3 separate regions of the Homo sapiens genome follow, and all the other regions are linked to region 1. Evidence: fine-mapped expression QTL. A gene starts in region 1. Each other region holds a variant in brackets. All regions are shown on one strand. Distances are between the middles of the regions.

Region 1 (8,142 bases):
TGCCTGGCCAACATGTTGAAACCCTGTCTCTACCAAAGATACAAAAATTAGCTGGGCATGGTGGTGCTTGCCTGTAATCCCAGCGCTTTGGGAGGCCAAGAGTTCCAGACCAGCCTGGCCAACAAGGTGAAACCCCATCTCTACTGAAAATACAAAAATTAGGCCAAGCGCGGTGGCTCACACCTGTAATCCCAGCACTTTGGGATGCTGAGGCGGGCGGATCACGAGGTCAGGGGTTTGAGACCAGCCTGACCAACATAGTGAAACCCCGTCTCTACTAAAAATATAAAAATTAGCTGGGCATAGTGGCGTGCGCCTGTAATCCCAGCTACTCAGGAGGCTGAGGGAGGAGAATCACTGGAACCCGGGAGGCGGAGGTTACAGTGAGCCACTGCACTCTAGCCTGGGCAACAGAGCAAGACAAGACTCCGTCTCAAAAAACAAAACAAAACAAACACAAAAATTAGCTTGGTGTGGTGGCGCATGCCTCGAATCCCAGCTACTAGGGAGGCTGAGGCAGGAGAATCACTTGAACCCGGGAGGCGGAGGTTGCAGTGAGCCGAGATCACGCCACTGCACTCCAGCCTGGGCGACAGAGTGAGACTCTGTCTCCAAAACAAAACAAACAAACAAAACACAAAGTTCATTAGGTTCAGACAGTAAAAAGGACGCACACTTTCTGGAACAATATACAAAGAAGTTACAAAGCAAATCTCCAGAACAGGAACTTTGCTTTGTTCCCTGGTCTATCTCCAGTGCTTAGTGACTGGGAACAGAGACGTGCTCCATAAACACTTCCATTGAAAATTACTACAACACATCCTCAATTTTCCCTAGCAGTAAGCTGACACAGAAGAGAGGTGTGACCAGAGTGGGGAGAGAATTTGTAAAGGGAAGGGTACAGGCAGCCCGCAGTGGACATTAAGGGAGGATGTACTCGGTGCCTCGGCCAGGACCAGACGTCCACCTTGCCAGGAAACGAAGAGGGCGAGCCTCCTAAAACTCACCTGGCCAAGGGGAGATGGTGGCTCTGTCGATGGCCTCGGAGCCCTTGGCAGTGCAGTAATCGGACTCCAGGAGCGTGTTAAAGAGAGTGGATTTGCCGGCGTTGGTGGCGCCCACTAAGTAGACGTCCCCACGGTAGCGCCAGGAGCGCTGAAGGGCAGAGATCAACTCTTCCACTCCATAGCCGGTCTTGGCGCTGATCAGCCGCACGTCCCTGACCACTGTGCGGGACCAGTTCGGCGGATTCGGATTCTCCCCGTCCTGTGGCTCGTCCTTGACGGGGCGCTGTGGCCCTTGGTGGCCAGGGGCCAGCAGGAGCCCGGCGCGGGCACAGTCCTCCCACAGTCGCTCCCGCAGCCTCTGCCGGTAGCCAGGAGCATCCTGGGGCAGGAGGTCCACTTTGTTTCCCAGCACGATCAGCTGCTTGGGGCCCACCAGCGCGGGCAAGTCGGGCAGCAGGGCGTCGGGCAGGTCCAGCAGGTCCACCATGTAGAGCACCAGGGAGGGGCCGGGCCGCCGCAACGCGGCGCTCACCAGCTCCAGGTACTGCTCGCGGCTCACCTGCAGGCGTAGAGCGCGCCGGTGGTGCGACAGCAGCCAGCAGCGCTGGCACACGGTCCGTGCCAGCCCGCCGTCTGCCTCCGCCGTGCGGAGGAACTTCTCTCGGGGCAGGTAGCCGGGCACTCCGGCGTCCTGGCAGTGCAGCTCTGCCCCACAGCCCGAGCAGTTCACGCCGCTGGGCGGCAATGCCGGGTCCGGGTGCCCCACGACCGGGTGCTCCCGGGACCTGGCCCGTAGGTTTTGCTGTCGCCGCTCCTCCCGCCGCTGCTGCCTCTGTCGCTCCTCCTCCTCCTGCTGTTGCTGGAGCTCCTGCAGCTGCTTTTCGCGGGTGGGTTGCGGCTCCGGATCCAGGATGTACTCCGGGAACAGAAAACGCTCCTGCATGTCACCACCTTCTCCAAAGCCCTCCGTGTCCACGGGGTCATAAGGAAGCTCGCGTCCCAGACTCGATGAGTGCTGGAAGGAGGAGGCGGCAGCGCACCTCCTCTCCAGGAGCGGCTCCCGGAGGCCATGGCGCGCTGCCGTGGGAGCGGATCCACGAAGGAAAAGGCTCAGCAGCCTGAACGGTAGGCGAGCGGGCAGCATGAGGAAGTAGCTCCAAAGGGGCGGAGCCACCAGCGCGCACGCGCACTAGGGTCCGAGGCGCGCATTTGACCCGAGACGAAAGCGCGTGGGTACTTGGGAGCTGTCCTGGTTGGTTTTGCGTCTAATCCCGTCAGTTCTCGCGATTTAAGCTCTGAGACTGAGAACCTACTTAAAGCTATGGCAAAGGCACTGGAGGATTGAGCTAGGTGGGCAGAAAAGAGCAGTGAGTGTTTTGGGTTTTTTCACTTTCAGGCTTAACGCCTCACTGCTAGCACAAGCCGCCCTTAATAAATCACACTTAAAAAGGAGCTTCCGGGGTCGGGCGCGGTGGCTCACGCCTGTAATCCCAGCAATTTGGGAGGCCGAGGCGGGCGGATCATGAGGTCAGGAGATCGAGACCATCCTGGCTTACACGGTGAAACCCCCATCTCTGCTAAAAATACAAAAAATTAGCCAGGCGTGGTGGCGGGCGCCTGTAGTCCCAGCTACTCGGGAGGCTGAGGCAGGAGAATGGCTTGAACGCGGGAGGCGGAGGTTGCAGTGAGCCGAGATCGCGCCACTGCACTCCAGCCTGGGCGACAGAGCGAGCCTGTCTCAAAAAAACAAAACAAAACAAAAACAGAAAGGAGCTTCCGGCCGGGCGCGTGGCTCACGCCTGTAATCCCAGCACTTTGGGAGGCCGAGGCGGGTGGATCACCTGAGGTCAGCAGTTCGAGACCAGCCTGGCCAACGTGGTGAAACCCCGTCTCTACTAAAAATACAAAAATTACCCGGGCGTGGTGACCCTTGCCTGTAATCCCAGCTATTTGGGAGGCCGAGGCAGGAGAATCGCTTGAACCCGGGAGACGGAGGTTGCAGTGAGCCGAGATCGCTCCACTGCACTCCAGCCTGGGCGACAGAGCGAGACTCCATTTCAAAAAATAATAAATAAATAAAAATAAAAAATAGCTTCGTGTTTTGGTCCTTATAAAGGCAAATAAATTGAGCATCCCAATGTTGCGGATTCACAGGACGAACACTTTTTAATAATAAGTATACCTGGTTTTGTTTTCAGGTGTCGTTATTTGTGCAACAACATTGAAAAACAAGCAGAAATAAAACATTGACGGAACGGATACGACCGCAGATTGCGGGAGCTGTCCTCTCAATCAGCCCGGCAGCGGCGGCCCACAATTTACGCGTGTGCAACCCTAACCCCGGCCCAAGCTTGACCTACAATTTGCGCAGGCGCAGATCCTAACTTTGGCGTCCCTGTGGGCGGCCTTTGGTGTGAGACGCGTGGTATTCTGGGAACGTCGGAGACGGAAGTTACTTCGTCTTTAGCTCCTGGCGCTGCTGGCTTCTGGGCGGTTTTTGTCTTTTGATTTCAAGAGTTAGGAGCTCGAGAACCGTTTGGCAATATGTACGACGCGGATGAGGGTAGGTGAACGCTCAAAACACACGCCGTGGCGGTCCATTTAAGCAGGAAAGCGTTGGGAACTGATTGGATTGAGGATTTGGGGCCTTCCCATGCGCCGGCTGCACAGTCCCCAGCCTTGTTCCCACACTTACCAGGCCGGGAACGAAACTGGGGTAGGGAGAGGCGGAGGGTGCAGGGAACATAGTGTTAATGTTCCAGGTTACGTTCACTGCTGCTCTCTGCACTTTCTCGTTCCGTTAGATCTGATCCTCGTTTCCTGTGGTGAAGTAGCGTGCAGAATCGTAAGATAAATTACGTTTTGAATTTGAAGCAAAGGGCACCCTTTAAAAATTTTCCTTAAAGCCACAGTCGACTTAACGAATAGCTCAATTGTTGAGTGTCAGCCTGTGTCAGGCAGTGTGGAAGGTCCTGGAAATATTCCGGGACAGAGAATATCGGGGGGTGGGGGTGGCGGGGGGGACTCGGTTTAGTCTGACATTTCTTCATACTGTTTGTAAGTCAAAGTAAATTGTCTTAAAGGATGACTTTTAACTTCCTCTTCTCACAATGTCACAGTTCTCAGATGATATGTATTCTGCTGCACTGGGCCAATGTATAATACCTGTTTGTTTGCGCATATGGAATTCTTAGTAGTGGCCGAGCGCGGTGGCTCCCGTCAGCACTTTGGGAGGCCGAGATGTGCAGATCGCTTGAGACCAACCTGACAAACATGGGGAAATCCTGTATCTACTAAAAATACAAAAATTAGCCTAGTGTGATGGCGTGCGCCTGTAATCCCAGCTACTCGGGAGGCTGAGGCCGGACGATCGCTTGAGCCCAGGAGGCGGAGTTTGCAGTGAGCTGAGATCGCACCACTACACCACAGCCTGAGTGACAGAGTTAGACTGTCTCAAAAAAAAAAAAAAAAAATTCTTAGTTGAGTCTAGTGTATTTTCGTAGCCGCCTTTTCCATTCTCCATATCTGCTAATTCAAACCTTATTTTCTTATAGCTCTCAATTCCTTGGCCACCCCCTACATCTCCTCTCTCTATTCCCTCAGGTACTTCTGATAAATCAGATGGAAAAAATTGAAGCAAAAGCTTAATTTTTTTTTTTTTTTTTTAAGAGATGGGGTCTGGCCATGTTGCCCAGGCTGGTCTCAAACTCCTGAGGTCAAACCATCTGCCTGTCTCGGCCTCCCAAAGTGCTGGGATTACAAGCATGAGCCAATGTGCCCAGCCAAAAGCTTAAACTTTTAAAGCTGTTTAAACTTCTGTCTCATTTATATCTTGTGTTGTAGAAATTTATTAGCATCATTATATTCCTTGTTCTTTTTTAACTACTATCTCAGTAGAAGAAAAATTCGAAAAAAAAGATTTTTAAAGCATAATTTTTGGCTGGGTAATATATTCTCATAGCTCACAAGCCAGAAAATTTAAAAATGTTAAAGTGGGGTGGCTGGTGCAGTGGCTCACGCCTGTTATCCCAGCATTTTGGGAGTCTGAGGCGGGTGGATTACTTGAGCTCAGGAGTTCGAGAGCAGCCTGGGCAACATGGGAGACCCCTCTCTATAAGAAATAGAAAAATTAGCTGGGCGTGGTCTTGCTCACCTATAGTCCCAGCTACTTGTGGGGCTGAGGCTGGAGGATCGCTTGAGCCTGGGAAGTTGACACTGCTATGAGCTGAGAACAAAGTGAGACCTTGTCTCAAAAAAAACAAGTTAAAGTGTCACGTCTCCTTCTTACCCACCATCTGCCCAGTTTGAACTCTCCACAGTGGGTAACTACAGTTATAACAGTTATAAGAGGTTCTTATCACTCCACAGTTTCTTTTTTTTTTTTTGATGGTCTTGCTCTGTTGCCCAGGCTTGAGTGTGGTGGCGCAATCTCGGCTCACTGTAACCTCCATCTCCCAGGTTCAAGCAGTTCTCCTGCCTCAGCCTCCCGAGTAGCTGAGATTACAGGCGTACACCACCGTGCCCAGCTAATTTTAGTATTTTTAGTAGAGATGGTTTCTCCACGTTGGCCAGGCTGATCTCAAACTCCTGACCTCAGGTGATTCACCTGCCTCGGCCTCCGAAAGTGCTGGGATTGCAGGTGTGAACCTCCAAGCCCAGCCTCCACAGTTTCCTTATGCATATTTAAGCAAATATAAATGGGATTTTCTCTTTTTTTAAAGACAGTAATATTCACACTTTTCTCCACTTTTAGATTTTGTTTAATGTGTCCAGGAGATTTTCGTATCAGTACACAGAAAGCATCGCGCCCCCCCTCCCGTGTCCCCACCCCCAGTTACTTAGTTTGTGTGGATGTACCATAACTTAAGTAGTCTCTTGATGGATATTCGGTTTATTTCTAGTCATTTTCGGGTTCAAACAGTGCTGTAAATGAATAATCTTGTACGTATAATTTGCCCAAGTATGTCTGTGGGATACATTTCTACATATAAAATTGTCAGGTCAAATGATATGCACGTTTAACATTTTGCTAGATGATGCCAAGTGACCACCATAGTGGTGATTGTACTAATTTTGCATTCTTATTAGCAATGTATAATGATCCTGTGGAAAAAGAGTTTATCAGGGTTGCTTTAGCAGTGAACCTACATTTTATTGCCCATGTCCTCTGAAATGTTTATTAGATAACGTCCTCATCAGTTTTCAGTCACTATGTGAAAATGTCAGATTTCTGTCATCCACATGGAAACAAGTTAAATTCTTTTCATTGTTACCTTTTTCTTCTAGTATTTTACCTTTCTTCTTTCACTCACAGCCAAACTTATAAAAATAATAAGCTGTCCTTGTTTCTAATTTTCATCTTTCATGTGCTTTTCAACTGATTACAATATGTTTCTACTCATGCTACTACATTAAGATAGCTCTAAGATTGACAGCGACTTCTCAATTGATAAATGAGATGGATATTTAAAACTTATCTAAACCCTGTGGTCTTCAAAACTGTTGATGACATCTTCCCGGAAACTCACTCAGCTTTCTAGCGACATCACTTTCACTTGATTTTTCTTATCTGACTTTTCTCATTTTCTTTCCTGTTCACATTCTCCTTGGGTGATCTCATCCATTTTCCATTGTTTCAGTTACCATCTGTATGCGGATAACTTCTGAATGTGTATACTTCTAGTTTAAAATCTGGGGTATCTAACTGCCACTAGCCAACTAGGATATCTCCCAGGCTGCTTAACCTTGTCAACTGCCCAAACTGAGCTAATTATTTTCTTTTGCTATTCCCCTCCCAAAGCCACTGCCTCCTGTCTTCTCTGTCTCGGTGAAGGGCACATTTGGCCCTCTGTATCTGTAGGTTTCACATCTGTATATTCAATTAACCTTGGATTGAAAATATTAAAAAGCTTGAGGCCAGGAATTTGAGACCAGCCTGGGCAACATAGGGAGACCTCATCTCTACAAAAAAATTTAAAAAATTAGCTGGGCATGGTGGCATGTGCCTGTGATCCCAGCTCCTCGGGATACTGAGGTGGGAGGACTGCTTGAGCCCTAAGAATTTGAGGCTACAGTGAGCTGTGATCACACCACTGCACTTCAGCCTGGGTAACAGCAAGGCCCTGTCTCAAAAAACAAAAAAGAGAATATTAAAAAAAAATTGCGTCCTTGTAAAAATGTACAGACTTTTTTTTTCTTGCCATTATTCCATAAACATTACAAGTAAATAATTATTTATATAGCATTTACATTGTATTAGGTATTATAAATAATCTAGAGATAATTTAAAAGATACAGGAGGATGTGTGCCTAGGGTATATAACAGTGCCATTTCATGTCAGGGACTTAAGCATCTGTGTTTGGTATCTATGGGAGGTCCTGAAACCAGTCTCCAATGGACACTGAGGTACAACTGTTGTACCCTCTGTTGTTGAAACCGAAAGCCTGGGCATCATTTTTGACTCCTCTCTTTCACCTCTATATCTAATCAGTCACCAAGCCCTGTTGGTTCTGTCTCCTAAATATGTCAAATCTGGCCACTTCTCTATCCCCTCCACCATCATTCTAGTTCATGTTGCTGCCATCCCTTGCCTAGATTACTCCTAACTGATTTGTATACTTCCAATCCACTCTCCACACTGGCCATAGGGATCTTTCAGAAATGAAAATCTGACCTAGCCACAACCCTGCTAAACTCATATCTCTTGGTAAAGGCCAAACTCTTCTTATTCCACTTCCAACTTCACAATCTGTGCTTCCGCTACATTGGCCTTCTATCATTCTTTGAATATGCCATCCTGTCTTGCATTATGGGGTCTTTTGCACAATTTGTTTTTTTCTATTTGGTAGGATTCTTTCTTGACTCCTACCTTTGTCCCTTCCTTTTGCCTGATTACTCCTGTTTATAACACGAGATCTCTGCTCAGGTTTTTTTTTTTTTTTTTTTTTTGAGATGGAGTTTCCCTTTGTCCCCCAGGCTGGAGTGCAGTGGTGTGATATCGGCTCACTGCAACCTCTGCCTCCCAGGTTCAAGTGATTCTTCGCCTCAGCCTCCTGAGTAGCTGGGATTTCAGGGATGCGCCACCATGCCCTTCTAATTTTTGTATTTTTAGTAGAGACGGGGTTTCACCATGCT
Region 2 (8,142 bases), 580 kb after region 1:
GCCTAGGTTTTCTTCTAGGGTTTTACGGTTTTAGGTCTAACATGTAAGTCTTTAATCCATCTTGAATTAATTTTTGTATATGGTGTAATGAATTGATCCAGTTTCAGCTTTCTACATATGGCTAGCCAGTTTTTCCAGCATCATTTATTAAATAGGGCATCCTTTCCCCATTTCTTGTTTTTGTCAGGTTTGTCAAAAATCAGATGGTTGTAAATGTGTGGCATTATTTCTGAGGACTCTGTTCTGTTCCATTGGTTTATATCTCTGTTTTGGTACAAGTACCATGCTGTTTTGGTTACTGTAGCCTTGTAGTATAGTTTGAAGTCAGGTAGTGTGATGCGTCCAGCTTTGTTCTTTTTGCTTAGGATTGTCTTGGCAATGCAGGCTCCTTTTTGGCTCCATATGAACTATAAATCAGTTTTTTTCCAATTCTGTGAAGAAAGTCATTGGGTCATTGGTAGCTTGATGGGGATGGCACTGAATCTATAAATTACTTTGAGCAGTATGGCCATTTTCATGATATTGATTCTTCCTATCCATGAGAATGGAATATTCTTCCATTTGTTTGTGTCCTCTTTTATTTCGTTAAGCAGTGGTTTTTAGTTCTTCTTGAAGAGATCTTTCACATCCCTTGTAAGTTGGATTCCTAGGTATTTTATTCTCTTTGAAGCAATTGTGAATGGGAGTTCACTCATGATTTGGCTCTCTGTTTGTCTGTTATTGGTGTATAAGAATGCTTGTGATTTTTGCACATTGATAATATATCCTGAGATTTTGTTGAAGTTGCTTAACAGCTTAAGGAGAATTTGGGCTGAGATGATGGGGTTTTCTAAATATACAATCATGTCCTCTGCAAATAGGGACAATTTGACTTCCTCATTTCTTAATTGAATACCCTTTATTTCTTTCTCCTGCCTGATTGCCCTGGCCTAAACTTCCAACACTGTGTTGAATACAAGCGGTGAGAGAGGGATTACTTATCTTGTTCTGGTTTTCAAAGGGAATGCTTCCAGTTTTTGCCCATTCAGTATGATATTGTCTGTGGGTTTGCCATAAATAGCTCTTATTATGTTGAGATACATTCCATCAATATCTAGTTTACTGAGAGTTTTTAGCATGAAGCGTTGTTGAATTTTTTCGAAGGCCTTTTCTGCATCTATTGAGATAATCATGTGGTTTTTGTCATTGGTTCTGTTTATGTGATGTTTTACGTTTATTGATTTGCATATGTTGAAGCAGCCTTGCATCCCAGGGATGAAGCCTTCTTGATCGTGGTGGATAAAATTTTTGATGTGCTGCTGGATTCAGTTTGCCAGTATTTTACTGAGGATTTTTGCATCAATGTTCATCAGAGATATTGGCTAAAATTCTCTTTTTTTGTTCTGTCTCTGCTAGGCTTTGGTATCAGGATGATGCTGGCCTCATACAATGAGTTAGGGAGGATTCCCTCTTTTTCTGTTGATTGGAATAGTTTTGGACGGATTGGTACCAGCTTCTCTTTCTACCTCTGGTAGAATTCGGCTGTGAATTCTTCTGGTCCTGGACTTTTTTTGGTTGGCAGGCTATTAATTATTGCCTCAATTTCAGAGCCTGTTATTGGTCTATTAAGAGATTCAACTTCTTCCTGGTTTAGTCTTGGGAGTGTATGTGTCCAGGAATTTATCCGTTTCTTCTAGATTTTCTAGTTTATTTGAGTAGAGTTGTTTATAGTATTCTCTGATAGTAGTTTGTATTTCTGTGGGATCGGTGGTGATATCCCCTTTATCATTTTTTATTGCGTCTATTTGATGCTTCTCTCTTTTCTTCTTTATTAGTCTTGCTAGCAGTCTATCAGTTTTATTGATCCTTTCTAAAAACCAGCTCCTGGATTCACTGATTTTTTTTTTTTTTTCTTGAGACTTTTCCTTTTTTTTTTTTTTTTCATGATCTTTTTTTTTTTTTTTTTTTTTATTATACTCTAAGTTTTAGGGTACATGTGCACATTGTGCAGGTTAGTTACATATGTATACATGTGCCATGCTGGTGCGCTGCACCCACTAATGTGTCATCTAGCATTAGGTATATCTCCCAATGCTATCCCTCCCCCCTCCCCTGACCCCACCACAGTCCCCAGAGTGTGATATTCCCCTTCCTGTGTCCATGTAACCTCATTGTTCAATTCCCACCCATGAGTGAGAATATGTGGTGTTTGGTTTTTTGTTCTTGCGATAGTTTACTGAGAATGATGGTTTCCAATTTCATCCATGTCCCTACAAAGGATATGAACTCATCATTTTTTATGGCTGCATAGTATTCCATGGTGTATATGTGCCACATTTTCTTAATCCAGTCTATCATTGTTGGACATTTGGGTTGGTTCCAAGTCTTTGCTATTGTGAATAGTGCCGCAATAAACATACGTGTGCATGTGTCTTTATAGCAGCATGATTTATACTCATTTGGGTATATACCCAGTAATGGGATGGCTGGGTCAAATGGTATTTCTAGTCCTAGATCCCTGAGGAATCGCCACACTGACTTCCACAATGGTTGAACTAGTTTACAGTCCCACCAACAGTGTAAAAGTGTTCCTATTTCTCCGCATCCTCTCCAGCACCTGTTGTTTCCTGACTTTTTAATGATTGCCATTCTAACTGGTGTGAGATGATATCTCATAGTGGTTTTGATTTGCATTTCTCTGATGGCCAGTGATGATGAGCATTTCTTCATGTGTTTTTTGGCTGCATAAATGTCTTCTTTTGAGAAGTGTCTGTTCATGTCCTTTGCCCACTTTCTGATGGGGTTGTTTGTTTTTTCTTGTAAATTTGTTTGAGTTCATTGTAGATTCTGGATATTAGCCCTTTGTCAGATGAGTAGGTTGCGAAAATTTTCTCCCATGTTGTAGGTTGCCTGTTCACTCTGATGGTAGTTTCTTTTGCTGTGCAGAAGCTCTTTAGTTTAATTAGATCCCATTTGTCAATTTTGGCTTTTGTTGCCATTGCTTTTGGTGTTTTGGACATGAAGTCCTTGCCCACGCCTATGTCCTGAATGGTAATGCCTAGGTTTTCTTGTAGGGTTTTTATGGTTTTAGGTTTAACGTTTAAATCTTTAATCCATCTTGAATTGATTTTTGTATAAGGTGTAAGGAAGGGATCCAGTTTCAGCTTTCTACATATGGCTAGCCAGTTTTCCCAGCACCATTTATTAAATAGGGAATCCTTTCCCCATTGCTTGTTTTTCTCAGGTTTGTCAAAGATCAGATAGTTGTAGATATGCGGCATTATTTCTGAGGGCTCTGTTCTGTTCCATTGATCTATATCTCTGTTTTGGTACCAGTACCATGCTGTTTTGGTTACTGTAGCCTTGTAGTATAGTTTGAAGTCAGGTAGCATGATGCCTCCAGCTTTGTTCTTTTGGCTTAGGATTGACTTGGCAATGCGGGCTCTTTTTTGGTTCCATATGAACTTTAAAGTAGTTTTTTCCAATTCTGTGAAGAAATTCATTGGTAGCTTGATGGGGATGGCATTGAATCTGTAAATTACCTTGGGCAGTATGGCCATTTTCACGATATTGATTCTTCCTACCCATGAGCATGGAATGTTCTTCCATTTGTTTGTGTCCTCTTTTATTTCCTTGAGCAGTGGTTTGCAGTTCTCCTTGAAGAGGTCCTTCACATCCCTTGTAAGTTGGATTCCTAGGTATTTTATTCTCTTTGAAGCAATTGTGAATGGGAGTTCACCCATGATTTGGCTCTCTGTTTGTCTGTTGTTGGTGTATAAGAATGCTTGTGATTTTTGTACATTGATTTTGTATCCTGAGACTTTGCTGGAGTTGCTTATCAGCTTAAGGAGATTTTGGGCTGAGACAATGGGGTTTTCTAGATAAACAATCATGTTGTCTGCAAACAGCGACAATTTGACTTCCTCTTTTCCTAATTGAATACCCTTTATTTCCTTCTCCTGCCTGATTGCCCTGGCCAGAACTTCCAACACTATGTTGAATAGGAGTGGTGAGAGAGGGCATCCCTGTCTTGTGCCAGTTTTCAAAGGGAATGCTTCCAGTTTTTGCCCATTCAGTATGATATTGGCTGTGGGTTTGTCATAGATAGTTCTTATTATTTTGAGATATGTCCCATCAATACCTAATTTATTGAGAGTTTTTAGCATGAAGGGTTGTTGAATTTTGTCAAAGGCTTTTTCTGCATCTATTGAGATAATCATGTGGTTTTTGTCTTTGGCTCTGTTTATATGCTGGATTACATTTATTGATTTGCGTATATTGAACCAGCCTTGCATCACAGGGATGAAGCCCACTTGATCATGGTGGATAAGCTTTTTGATGTGCTGCTGGATTCGGTTTGCCAGTATTTTATTGAGGATTTTTGCATCAATGTTCATCAAGGATATTGGTCTAAAATTCTCTTTTTTGGTTGTGTCTCTGCCCGGCTTTGGTATCAGAATGATGCTGGCCTCATAAAATGAGTTAGGGAGGATTCCCTCTTTTTCTATTGATTGGAATAGTTTCAGAAGGAATGGTACCAGTTCCTCCTTGTACCTCTGGTAGAATTCGGCTGTGAATCCATCTGGTCCTGGACTCTTTTTGGTTGGTAAACTATTGATTATTGCCACAATTTCAGAGCCTGTTATTGGTCTATTCAGAGATTCAACTTCTTCCTGTTTTAGTCTTGGGAGAGTGTATGTGTCGAGGAATGTATCCATTTCTTCTAGATTTTCTAGTTTATTTGTGTAGAGGTGTTTGTAGTATTCTCTGATGGTAGTTTGTATTTCTGTGGGATCGGTGGTGATATCCCCTTTATCATTTTTTATTGTGTCTATGTGATTCTCTTCTCTTTTTTTCTTTATTAGTCTTGCTAGCGGTC[T/C]ATCAATTTTGTTGATCCTTTCAAAAAACCAGCTCCTGGATTCATTGATTTTTTGAAGGGTTTTTTGTGTCTCTATTTCCTTCAGTTCTGCTCTGATTTTAGTTATTTCTTGCCTTCTGCTAGCTTTTGAATGTGTTTGCTCTTGCTTTTCTAGTTCTTTTAATTGTGATGTTAGGGTGTCAATTTTGGATCTTTCCTGCTTTCTCTTGTAGGCATTTAGTGCTATAAATTTCCCTCTACACACTGCTTTGAATGCGTCCCAGAGATTCTGGTATGTGGTGTCTTTGTTCTCGTTGGTTTCAAAGAACATCTTTATTTCTGCCTTCATTTCGTTATGTACCCAGTAGTCATTCAGGAGCAGGTTGTTCAGTTTCCATGTAGTTGAGCGGCTTTGAGTGAGATTCTTAATCCTGAGTTCTGGTTTGATTGCACTGTGGTCTGAGAGATAGTTTGTTATAATTTCTGTTCTTTTACATTTGCTGAGGAGAGCTTTACTTCCAACTATGTGGTCAATTTTGGAATAGGTGTGGTGTGGTGCTGAAAAAAATGTATATTCTGTTGATTTGGGGTGGAGAGTTCTGTAGATGTCTATTAGGTCTGCTTGGTGCAGAGCTGAGTTCAATTCCTGGGTATCCTTGTTGACTTTCTGTCTCGTTGATCTGTCTAATGTTGACAGTGGGGTGTTAAAGTCTCCCATTATTAATGTGTGGGAGTCTAAGTCTCTTTGTAGGTCACTGAGGACTTGCTTTATGAATCTGGGTGCTCCTGTATTGGGTGCATAAATATTTAGGATAGTTAGCTCCTCTTGTTGAATTGATCCCTTTACCATTATGTAATGGCCTTCTTTGTCTCTTTTGATCTTTGTCGGTTTAAAGTCTGTTTTATCAGAGACTAGGATTGCAACCCCTGCCTTTTTTTGTTTTCCATTGGCTTGGTAGATCTTCCTCCATCCTTTTATTTTGAGCCTATTTGTGTCTCTGCACATGAGATGGGTTTCCTGAATACAGCACACTGATGGGTCTTGACTCTTTATCCAACTTGCCAGTCTGTGTCTTTTAATTGCAGAATTTAGTCCATTTATATTTAAAGTTAATATTGTTATGTGTGAATTTGATCCTGTCATTATGATGTTAGCTGGTGATTTTGCTCATTAGTTGATGCAGTTTCTTCCTAGTCTCGATGGTCTTTACATTTTGGCATGATTTTGCAGCAGCTGGTACCGGTTGTTCCTTTCCATGTTTAGCGCTTCCTTCAGGAGCTCTTTTAGGGCAGGCATGGTGGTGACAAAATCTCTCAGCATTTGCTTGTCTATAAAGTATTTTATTTCTCCTTCACTTATGAAGCTTAGTTTGGCTGGATATGAAATTCTGGGTTGAAAATTCTTTTCTTTAAGAATGTTGAATATTGGCCCCCACTCTCTTCTGGCTTGTAGGGTTTCTGCCGAGAGATCCGCTGTTAGTCTGATGGGCTTTCCTTTGAGGGTAACCCGACCTTTCTCTCTGGCTGCCCTTAACATTTTTTCCTTCATTTCAACTTTGGTGAATCTGACAATTATGTGTCTTGGAGTTGCTCTTCTCGAGGAGTATCTTTGTGGCATTCTCTGTATTTCCTGAATCTGAACGTTGGCCTGCCTTGCTAGATTGGGGAAGTTCTCCTGGATAATATCCTGCAGAGTGTTTTCCAACTTGGTTCCATTCTCCACATCACTTTCAGGTATACCAATCAGACGTAGATTTGGTCTTTTCACATAGTCCCATATTTCTTGGAGGCTTTGCTCATTTCTTTTTATTCTTTTTTCTCTAAACTTCCCTTCTCGCTTCATTTCATTCATTTCATCTTCCATTGCTGATACTCTTTCTTCCAGTTGATCGCATCGGCTCCTGAGGCTTCTGCATTCTTCACGTAGTTCTCGAGCCTTGGTTTTCAGCTCCATCAGCTCCTTTAAGCACTTCTCTGTATTGGTTATTCTAGTTATACATTCTTCTAAATTTTTTTCAAAGTTTTCAACTTCTTTGCCTTTGGTTTGAATGTCCTCCCGTAGCTCAGAGTAATTTGATCGTCTGAAGCCTTCTTCTTTCAGCTCGTCAAAATCATTCTCCATCCAGCTTTGTTCTGTTGCTGGTGAGGAACTGCGTTCCTTTGGAGGAGGAGAGGTGCTCTGCGTTTTAGAGTTTCCAGTTTTTCTGTTCTGTTTTTTCCCCATCTTTGTGGTTTTATCTACTTTTGTTCTTTGATGATGGTGATGTACAGATGGGTTTTCGGTGTAGATGTCCTTTCTGGTTGTTAGTTTTCCTTCTAACAGACAGGACCCTCAGCTGCAGGTCTGTTGGAATACCCTGCCGTGTGAGGTGTCAGTGTGCCCCTGCTGGGGGGTGCCTCCCAGTTAGGCTGCTCGGGGGTCAGGGGTCAGGGACCCACTTGAGGAGGCAGTCTGCCCGTTCTCAGATCTCCAGCTGCGTGCTGGGAGAACCACTGCTCTCTTCAAAGCTGTCAGACAGGGACACGTAAGTCTGCAGAGGTTACTGCTGTCTTTTTGTTTGTCTGTGCCCTGCCCCCAGAGGTGGAGCCTACAGAGGCAGGCAGGCCTCCTTGAGCTGTGGTGGGCTCCACCCAGTTCGAGCTTCCTGGCTGCTTTGTTTACCTAAGCAAGCCTGGGCAATGGCGGGCGCCCCTCCCCCAGCCTCGTTGCCGCCTTGCAGTTTGATCTCAGACTGCTGTGCTAGCAATCAGTGAGATTCCGTGGGCGTAGGACCCTCTGAGCCAGGTGTGGGATATAGTCTCGTGGTGCGCCATTTCTTAAGCCGGTCTGAAAAGCGCAATATTCGGGTGGGAGTGACCCGATTTTCCAGGTGCATCTGTCACCCCTTTCTTTGACTCGGAAAGGGAACTCCCTGACCCCTTGCGCTTCCCAGGTGAGGCAATGCCTCGCCCTGCTTCGGCTCGCGCACGGTGCGCACACACACTGGCCTGCGCCCACTGTCTGGCACTCCCTAGTGAGATGAACCCGGTACCTCAGATGGAAATGCAGAAATCACCTGTCTTCTGCGTCGCTCACGCTGGGAGCTGTAGACCGGAGCTGTTCCTATTCGGCCATCTTGGCTCCTCCTCCCGGATTCACTGATTTTTTGAAGGGTTTTTTGTGTCTTTATCTCCTTCAGTTCTGCTCTGATCTTAGTTATTTCTTGCCTTCTGCTAGCTTTTGAATTTGTTTCCTCTTGCTTCTCTAGTTCTTTTAATTGTGATGTTAGGGTGTTGATTTTAGATCTTTCCTGCTTTCTCTTGTG
Region 3 (8,142 bases), 25 kb before region 1:
CCTGTAATCCCATCTGCTCGGGAGGCTGAGGCAGGAGAATTGCATGAACTCAGGAGGTGGATGTTGCAGTGAGCTGAGATCGTGCCACTGCACTCCAGCCTGGGTGACAAAGCAAGACTCTATCTCAAAAAAAAAAAAAAAAAAAAAAAAAGGAAAGGAATAAAAGAATGGCTACTCCATGGACAGAGCAGCCCCGAGAGCTACTGGTTCCCCATTTTTATGGTTATTCCTATGCCAAACAAGGGGTGGATTATTTATGCCTTCTCTTTTTGGACCATGTAGGGTAACTTCCTGATGTTGCTGTGGCATTTGTAAACTGTCATGGCGCTGGTGGGAGTGTAGCAGTGAGGATGACCAGAGGTTGCTCTCATCACCATTTTGGTTTTGGTTGATTTTGGCCGGCTCCTTTACTGCAACGTGTTTTATCAGCAAGGTCTTTATGACCTGTAATTTGTGCTGACCTCCTGTCTCATCCTGTGACTTAGAATGTCTTAACCATCTGGGAATGCAGCACTGTAGGTTTCAGCCTCATTTTACCCAGCTCCTATTTAAGATGAAGTTGCTCTGGTTCACACACCTCTGACATTCATACCTATGTGGGCAATGTGCCTTGTAGCAGAACCTGGAAAATCTCAAGATATTCCCTGAGACCTATGCAGATCCCCAGATTTCAAGTCTTGCCAGAATGCTTGATCACTTTCATTAGAGTAAGTGGCCTCTTCAAACTTAATAACCTTGTAAATATATGATGAAATTAATTCATAAAGCATTTAAAAATCACCTTTTGGCCAGGTGTGGTGGCTCATGCCTGTAATCCTAGCACTCTGGGAGGCCGAGGTGGGCAGATCACTTAAGGTCAGAAGTTAGAGACCAGCCTGGCCAACATACTGAAACCTCGTCTCTACTAAAAATACAAAAATTAGCCAGGCATGGTGGTACACGCCTGTAGTCCCAGTTACTCGGGAGGCTGAGGCAGAAAAATCGCTTGAACGAAGTGGAGGTTGCAGTGAGCCGAGATTGTGCCACTGCACTCCAGCCTGGGCGACAGAGCAAGACTCCATCTCAAAAAAAAAAATTGGCTTTACACCTTTTTGACCAATGTTTTTTTCATCTTGATAGTTTTTACACTAACTGATGGGGACAGTTCAAGTAGTTTCTTTTTGGATTTCAACACTATCACATCTCTAGATACCCCAATATAAGATTCTTTTTTTTTTTTTTTTTTGAGATGGAGTCTCGCTCTTTCACCCAGGCTGGAGTGCAGTGGCGCGATCTTGGCTCACTGCAAGCTCTGCCTCCTGGATTCACACCATTCTGCCTCAGCCCCCCAAGTAGCTGGGACTACAGGCACCCGCCACCGCGCCCGGCTAATTTTTTGTATTTTTAGTAAAGACGGGGTTTCACCGTGTTAGCCAGGATGGTCTTGATCTCCTGAACTCGTGATCCGCCCACCTCGGCCTCCCAAAGTGCTGGGATTACAGGCGTGAGCCACTGCACCCAGCCCCAATATAAGATTCTAGTAAAACATGGAGTTGAAGATGGATTTAGGAACAAAGGGACCTCCTATATGGTTCTCCTTGTTCCCTGCCTCCCCTTCTGTCTCAGTATGGGCCCAGTGTGCTCTGGCAGGACAAGCGGGTGTGGGGAGGGGAGGGATAGAGATGCGAAAATGCTGGCAGATGGCCACTGCTAAAAGGGGTTCTGAAATTACTTCCAGCCACACGGCCTCCCCACCTCTCTCCCTGGTTATGGAGCCAGGAAAAGAAACGAGTTTGTATGGCTTCAGGACCCTCAGCTTGAACTCTGCCTCAAACCCTTGTCCATTTTTCTTTCTTGGAGAGCAGTAGGATACTATTTTGAGACATGAAGGCCCTTCATTTCTGTGTTCTCATTACCTTCCCCATTACAGAGACTTCCCAGGTAGAGGACTTCCTAGGATAGCTTTCTTCTAGTATAAGTACTGGAGCTAGAGGGAGAGATAGCCCAGAATTGAGTCTGCATGGATTTTTTTTTTCATTGAAATTTACCCAAGTAATATGTACACATTAATAAGTAAAAACAAAATATTCCTAAAGGATTTATGATAAAATCAAAAGCTGAAAATCTCTCCCCACTTCTTTGCTCGTCATATAGCAGCTCTGTGTATCAGACTTCTGAGGTAAATTTAAATTAGGATAATATTTCTCTTTTTTTCTTTTCTTTTCTTTCTTTCTTTATTTTTTTTAAGACGGAGTTTCATCTTGTTGCCCAGGCTGGAGTGCAGTGGCGCAATCTTACCTCAACACAACCTCTACCTCCCAGGTTCAAGCGATTGTCCTGCCTCATCCTCCTGAGTAGCTGGGATTACAGGCATGCACTACCATGCCCAGCTACTTTTTATATTTTTAGTAGAGATGGGGTTTCACCATGTTGGTCAGGCTGGTCTCGAACTCCTGACCTTAGGTGATCCACCTGCCTCTGCCTCCCGAAGTGCTGGGATTACAGGCATGAGCCACTGTGCCTGGACTCAGTATTTCTTATTTGATAGATTTATATTGGATTTTTTTTTTTTTTTTTGAGATGGAGTCTCACTCTGTCGCCCAGGCTGGAGTGCAGTGGTGCAATCCCGGCTCACTGCAACCTCCACTTCCCAGGTTCCAGGTTCAAGCGAGTCTTCTGCCTCAGCCTCCTGAGTAGCTGGGACTACAGGCACACGCAACCACACCCAGCTAATTTTTGTATTTTTAGTAGAGGCGGGGTTTCACCATATTGGCCAGGCTGGTCTCGAACTCCTGACCTCGTGATCCACCCATCTTGGCCTCCCAAAGTGCTGGGATTAAAGGCTTGAGCCACCGTGCCCGGCCTGGATTCACTTTCTATAGGCCAATTAGATAGCACATTATATTTGTATTTTCTTCAGGGTGATCAACGCCAAAAGCTTGTGATGGATTAAAATAGCCACAAATTCCAGTACATGTTTGAATCTGTGCTGCCATTGTGACTTGCTTTGACCAATAAATGCAGCAGAAGTGGCACTGTGTGACTTTGAGCTTCGGCCTCCAGAGGCTTTGCAAGCTCTACTCTCAGGCTTTTTGTGAACACTGTCACCTTGTGAACAAGCTTGAACTAGCCTACTTGAGGATGAGACCCTTGGAAGAGAGAGTGATCAATGGAAAATGCCTCACTTGCTCAGCTGTTACAACCATCTCAGCTGAAACTCCTGTGCGTGAGGTCAGCCTGGCTGTGTGCTGTGTGCAAATGCATGTCGCCACAGAGCAGAAGTACCATTGAGCGGAGCCTAGATTAAGTTGCCAAACTAAAGAATGGGAGCAAATAATCGCTTGGTTCAAGTCACCAAGTTTCAGGGTGGTTTGTTATTCAGCAATAGATGTGGATATAAACCTAATCATGTCCTCAAACCTAGTTAATAAAAAAGAAGCATTTTCAACGAACAAATGAGCAACTGTACCTAGAAGTGACTTACTCCATGCCCAACGGGGGAGTTAGTGGGTACATGGGACAGTTACACATTGTTCTCCTTTGTTGAACAGTCTCTTGTCCACGTTCCCATGCTGAAAAATTTTAACACATTTCTCAGAATTAGCTTTACATAAAGCTTTATTTATCTAATGAAAAAGCTAGTGTTTCAGTAAAATACATCTTTTATCTGGTATTTTAAAGGAAAGCAGCCCCATTTCTTTAATTTGCCTTCCTGTTGAGTATTTCACCATAGTTTTTTTTTTTTTTTTTTTTTTTTAAAAGACAGAGATTCGCTCTTGTTGCCCAGGCGGGAGTGCAATGGCGCGATCTCAGCTCACTGCAACCTCCGCCTCCTGGGTTCAAGCGATTCTCCTGCCTCAGTCTCCCGAGTAAGCTGGGATTACAGGCGCCCGCCACCATGCCTGACTAATTTTGTATTTTTAATAGAGATGGGGTTTCTCCACATTGGTGAGGCTGGTCTCAAACTCCCAACCTCAGGTGATCTGTCTGCCTTGGCCTCCCAAAATGCTGGGATTACAGACGTGAGCCACCGTGCCCGGCCTCACCACAGAGTTTAAAGTCGAAGACAGGGAAAAAAAAGATAAATCTATTTAGGTCAAATGCTAAATGCTGAGCAAAACTTGCAATAATAGAAAGCTTTTAATTGGACAACCCAGTAACTCCTGTTTAGGGAAAGTCAGTAAGATGTAGCAAGAAACAGGCAACTGGATTGAGAGCTACACAAGTAGGAAAAGCAGGGGCATTTAAACAAGTTCAGGGCCAAATTATCAAATTGGTTTTTGAGGCTTTTTGATTTGCAAGTAAATGGGGATCACCGGTTCTAATCTCATGAGTAGGATTAGGATGAAAAATTACAGTCTCTTTTCTATGATAGTTTAGTGTAATTTTTGGATGTTTGCTTCCCAAATTTTCTGTATATCGAATTTACTATTTTCTTAATCAGAATTGTGGGTAAGGATTTCCATGCATGCTGTGATCTGTCCGTGGTACTTGGCAAGCTCATCAGCAATGTGAAAGATTCCCAGCCAGCCAGGGAAGCACAGTCCATTTAAAGCCATCTGAGGTGGTGAGAGAGCATGGAAATCAAACTGGGATACCTGTTTTGGTTTGGGCAGCAGTGCTGAAGTAAGACAGCAAGGGCACAGCACATTACACACACACACACACACACACACACACACACACACTGCTCTGAGACAAATGCTCAGGGAGAAATTATATATGGTAGAATTCAAAGGAAGCCAGAAGGAGATTAAGTGGTAGTTGTCCAGAATTCCCGAGAGAATTGTGCTATTATCTTTGAAGGTCTTCAAAGTAGGTTTCCTTCCTAAGGTTGAAAAATTCTCACCTTTAGATTTGTTGATGGGTTTTAGTATATAGAGGAATTACTGTGCAGTGGTTGAAGACATGGATATTGATGGAACTGTTCTTTTTTTTCTTTTTTTTGAGATGGAGTCTCACTCTGTTGCCCAGGCTGGAGTGCAGTGTTGTGATCTTGGCTCACTGCAACCTCTGCCTCCCGCGTTCAAGGGATTCTCCCTGCCTCAGCCTCA[T/C]GAGTAGCTGGGATTACAGGTACCCGCCACTATGCCTGGTTAATTTTTGTATTTTTAGTAGAGACGTGGTTTCACCATCTTAGCCAGGCTGGTCTTGAACTCCTGACCTCATGATCCACCTGCCTCAGCCTCCCAAAGTGCTGGGATTACAGGCCACTGTGCCCGGCCAGAACTGTTCTATATTGTGATTATGGTGGTCATTAAACAAACATATACGTGTGATAAAATCCATAGAACTGTACATGAAAACAAAGTCTGTTATAATTAAAAACCCCAGGCTGGGCACACGGTGGCTCACACCTGCAGTCCTAGCACTTTGGGAGGCCAACTCAGGAAGATCGCTTGAGCACAGGGGTTTGAGACCAGCCTGGGAAATATAGTGAGACCTTGTTTCTACAAAAAATTAAAAAATTAGTTGAGTGCGGTGGCGTGTGCCTGTAGTCCAGCTACTTGGGTGGCTGACATGGAAGGATTGCTTGAGCCTGGGAGGTGGGTGCCATAGTGAGCTGAGACTGTGTCACTGCACTCTAGCCTGGGTGACAGAGTGAGAACCTTTTTCAAAATAAAACAACGAAGCCCCACATGAGTTCTGGAGATAGAGTGCCTGGGTTTGTTTGAATCACAGCTCCATCACTTATTAGTTAGATCCTGGGTAAGTTATTTGTGCCTCAGTTTCCTCATCTGTAAATGTGGGTAATAATAGTATTTCTGCATGGGGTTGCTGTAAGGATTCAGTTAATATATGTAAAGCACTTGAAAGAGTGCCTGGCTCATTTTATTACTATATAAGTGATAGCTATTATTATTATTATATAAGTATAAAGGAGTAAAAAGATATATGGGCTATCATATGATTATAGCAACTACGAGTAATCTGAAGTCTGAAATACAACAACCATGAGGTACTGGCTTTATGCAGGAAAGGAAGAAACTCTATAAGAGGTTAGTGTAAATGCTACTAAGCAAATTTAAGTTTGCTCTTTCCCTATTTTCCAGGGAAGGCAAAAACCAAGCAAACAAAAAAATCCTCTCACTCTATTGATCCATTCATTGAATGTCTGCTATTTTCTTTTTCTTTTCTTCTTTTTTTCTGAGACGGAGTCTCACGCTGTCGCCTGGGGCTGGTGTGCAGTGGCACGATCTCGGCTCGCTGCAACTTCTGCCTCCCAGGTTCAAGCAATTCTCCTGCCTCAGCCTCCCGAGTAGCTAGGATTACAGGCATGTGCCACCTTTGTATTTTTAGTTGAGACGGGGTTTCACTATGTTGGCCAGGCTGGTCTCAAACTCCTGACCTCGTGATCCACCTGCCTCGGCCTCCCAAAATGCTGGGATTACCGGGGTGAGCCACCACGCCCAGCCATGCCTGCTATTTTCTAGGGCTTACTGAAAGGTTAGAAAGGATCTTGGCAGTCTTTCACTTCCATATATTTCACTTCCAATATCACCTGACACATGATGATGTATTCTCTAACGTGTCTGCTTGTTTTGTGTATGTGTGACCTCAGTTTTTTCCAATTTACCACAGCTACCAGGTAGAGGTACTGACGGTGTCTGTGATTAAGCATCATACTATTACAGCATCTACCAATAAGAATATTAAGACCAAATAAATTCTCCCACTAGATTGACTACACAGTAGGTAAATTCGGAGAATTATTTGCGAAGCCAAAAGCAGCTTTTGAAAGCAGGAACCTGGGAATCCAAGCAGTGGGTGTTTTGAGGATGATCCAGATACACTTAGGAGTATTCAGATCATGAAACTCCATGACATGAAGGGAAAAGGTGAGGCATCACTGCAATATGATGTTAAAATAGTAATCTTGGCCTGGTGTGGTGGCTCACACCTGTAATCCCAGCACTTTGGGAGGCTGAGGTGGGAGGATTGGTGAAGCTAGGAGTTTGAGACCAGCCTGGGCAACAAAGTGAGACCCTGTCTCTACAAAAATAAAAAATTTAGCTGGGTGTGGTGGCACCTGCCTATAGTTCCAGCTACTCGGGTGGCTGAGGCGGGAGTATCACTTGAGCCCAGGAGGTCAAGGCTGCGTTGAGCTGTGATTACACCACTACACTCCAGCCTGGGCAGCCGAGTGAGACCCTGTCTCTGAAAAAATAAAACAACAACAACAAAACAAAAAACAAAAAAACCTATCTTGAACCATTCCCCTCTCACGACAAGGTCTTAATGGGGGCAGATAATATGACAGAGAGACATTCAGAGCAGGCAGAGGTGTCATCGATTTGATTCACGAGTCTGAAATCTTGTTTTTAATGTTTAAGCATTACTCTTTGACAATTGAGAGAAAACAATCCCCCTGGGAGGAGGAAAGTGGCCAAAAGAAAATGGAACAGCTGAGAAAGAATGGAAATGATTCTAATGCTCCACGACACAGAGCCAAGTGGGAGGGAAGCCAGGGTAAATGATCCGAGCCCGTCTATGAAACAGCCCGCCTCAGCTTGCGCGCTGGGTGCTTACTCAGTGAAGCAATAACAACTCTGTCATGGCTGACACAGCTGGAGCTCCTCCATGTTAGTCAGCTGCAGGAAACCAGCCTATGTCCATTGTGCAAGAAGAGTCTGAACACTAGAGACACAGGCACACAAGATTGCATCTCTACTCCGCTTCTCCTTGGTTGTTATGGGAAGTGAGTGTCTCAAGTTAAATAAACTAGACTCTGGGGAACTATACAGTAAAGACTTAGTGATCGGCACAGCTTGGCATTTATGGTGATTAAAGATACAAAACATATTACAACTTTAATTTGTCTTAGTAACTTTGAAGAAGATGTTGTTATTTTAGTTTAATTAGAGGGGGGAAAAGCAGAGGGATTACGTGTAACTTTTTAAAATAAAACTTTGAACCTAATATCACATAAAAGTCAAAAAGTACTTTGATGGAATTTATTTTACTTCTTTTGGGTGTCATGAATACAAAAGAGGTGACATGCTCAACACCACAGTGCTGCAGAGCCAGGTAAACAATCTAGAATAAACTTGCTTCATTGTTTTCTAGCAACCCCTAACCACCTCTGTGATCTGTGGAAGTGAGGAGTTGGTACTTTGCCCTTAATTTCTCCTCCCGTTCCTGGCCAGAAGAGCCCACTAATTCTTG

Direction of the effects. Alleles are on the strand shown, and positions count from the first base shown. SD is a standard deviation of normalised expression in the study named. Not every link is listed here.
For the expression in monocytes of the gene that starts at base 3,462 in region 1, allele C in region 2 goes with a lower level than allele T (large effect, 1.4 SD a copy in BLUEPRINT).

Evidence for each region. PIP is the estimated chance that this variant, and not a neighbour inherited with it, causes the effect.
Region 2: its variant is fine-mapped to the expression of POLR2B in monocytes (BLUEPRINT, PIP 0.95).
Region 3: its variant is fine-mapped to the expression of POLR2B in whole blood (TOPMed, PIP 0.97).

What each region holds. Positions count from the first base shown.
Region 1 is chr4:56,975,435-56,983,576 of GRCh38, forward strand. POLR2B (RNA polymerase II subunit B) reads left to right here and starts at 3,462. Exons shown (of 25, transcript NM_000938.3): 1 at 3,462-3,570. The coding sequence starts at 3,552. NOA1 (nitric oxide associated 1) reads right to left here and starts at 2,172. Exons shown (of 7, transcript NM_032313.4): 1 at 1,008-2,172. The coding sequence starts at 2,151. RefSeq lists enhancers at 1,405-1,464, 1,845-1,914, 3,736-3,835 and a silencer at 1,665-1,744.
Region 2 is chr4:57,560,381-57,568,522 of GRCh38, forward strand. No RefSeq gene overlaps it. Among named protein-coding and RNA genes, the nearest start is that of LINC02380, 140 kb to the left of the region's middle. The variant T/C (reference allele first, on the strand shown) is at 4,859.
Region 3 is chr4:56,950,806-56,958,947 of GRCh38, forward strand. No RefSeq gene overlaps it. Among named protein-coding and RNA genes, the nearest start is that of NOA1, 23 kb to the right of the region's middle. The variant T/C (reference allele first, on the strand shown) is at 5,034.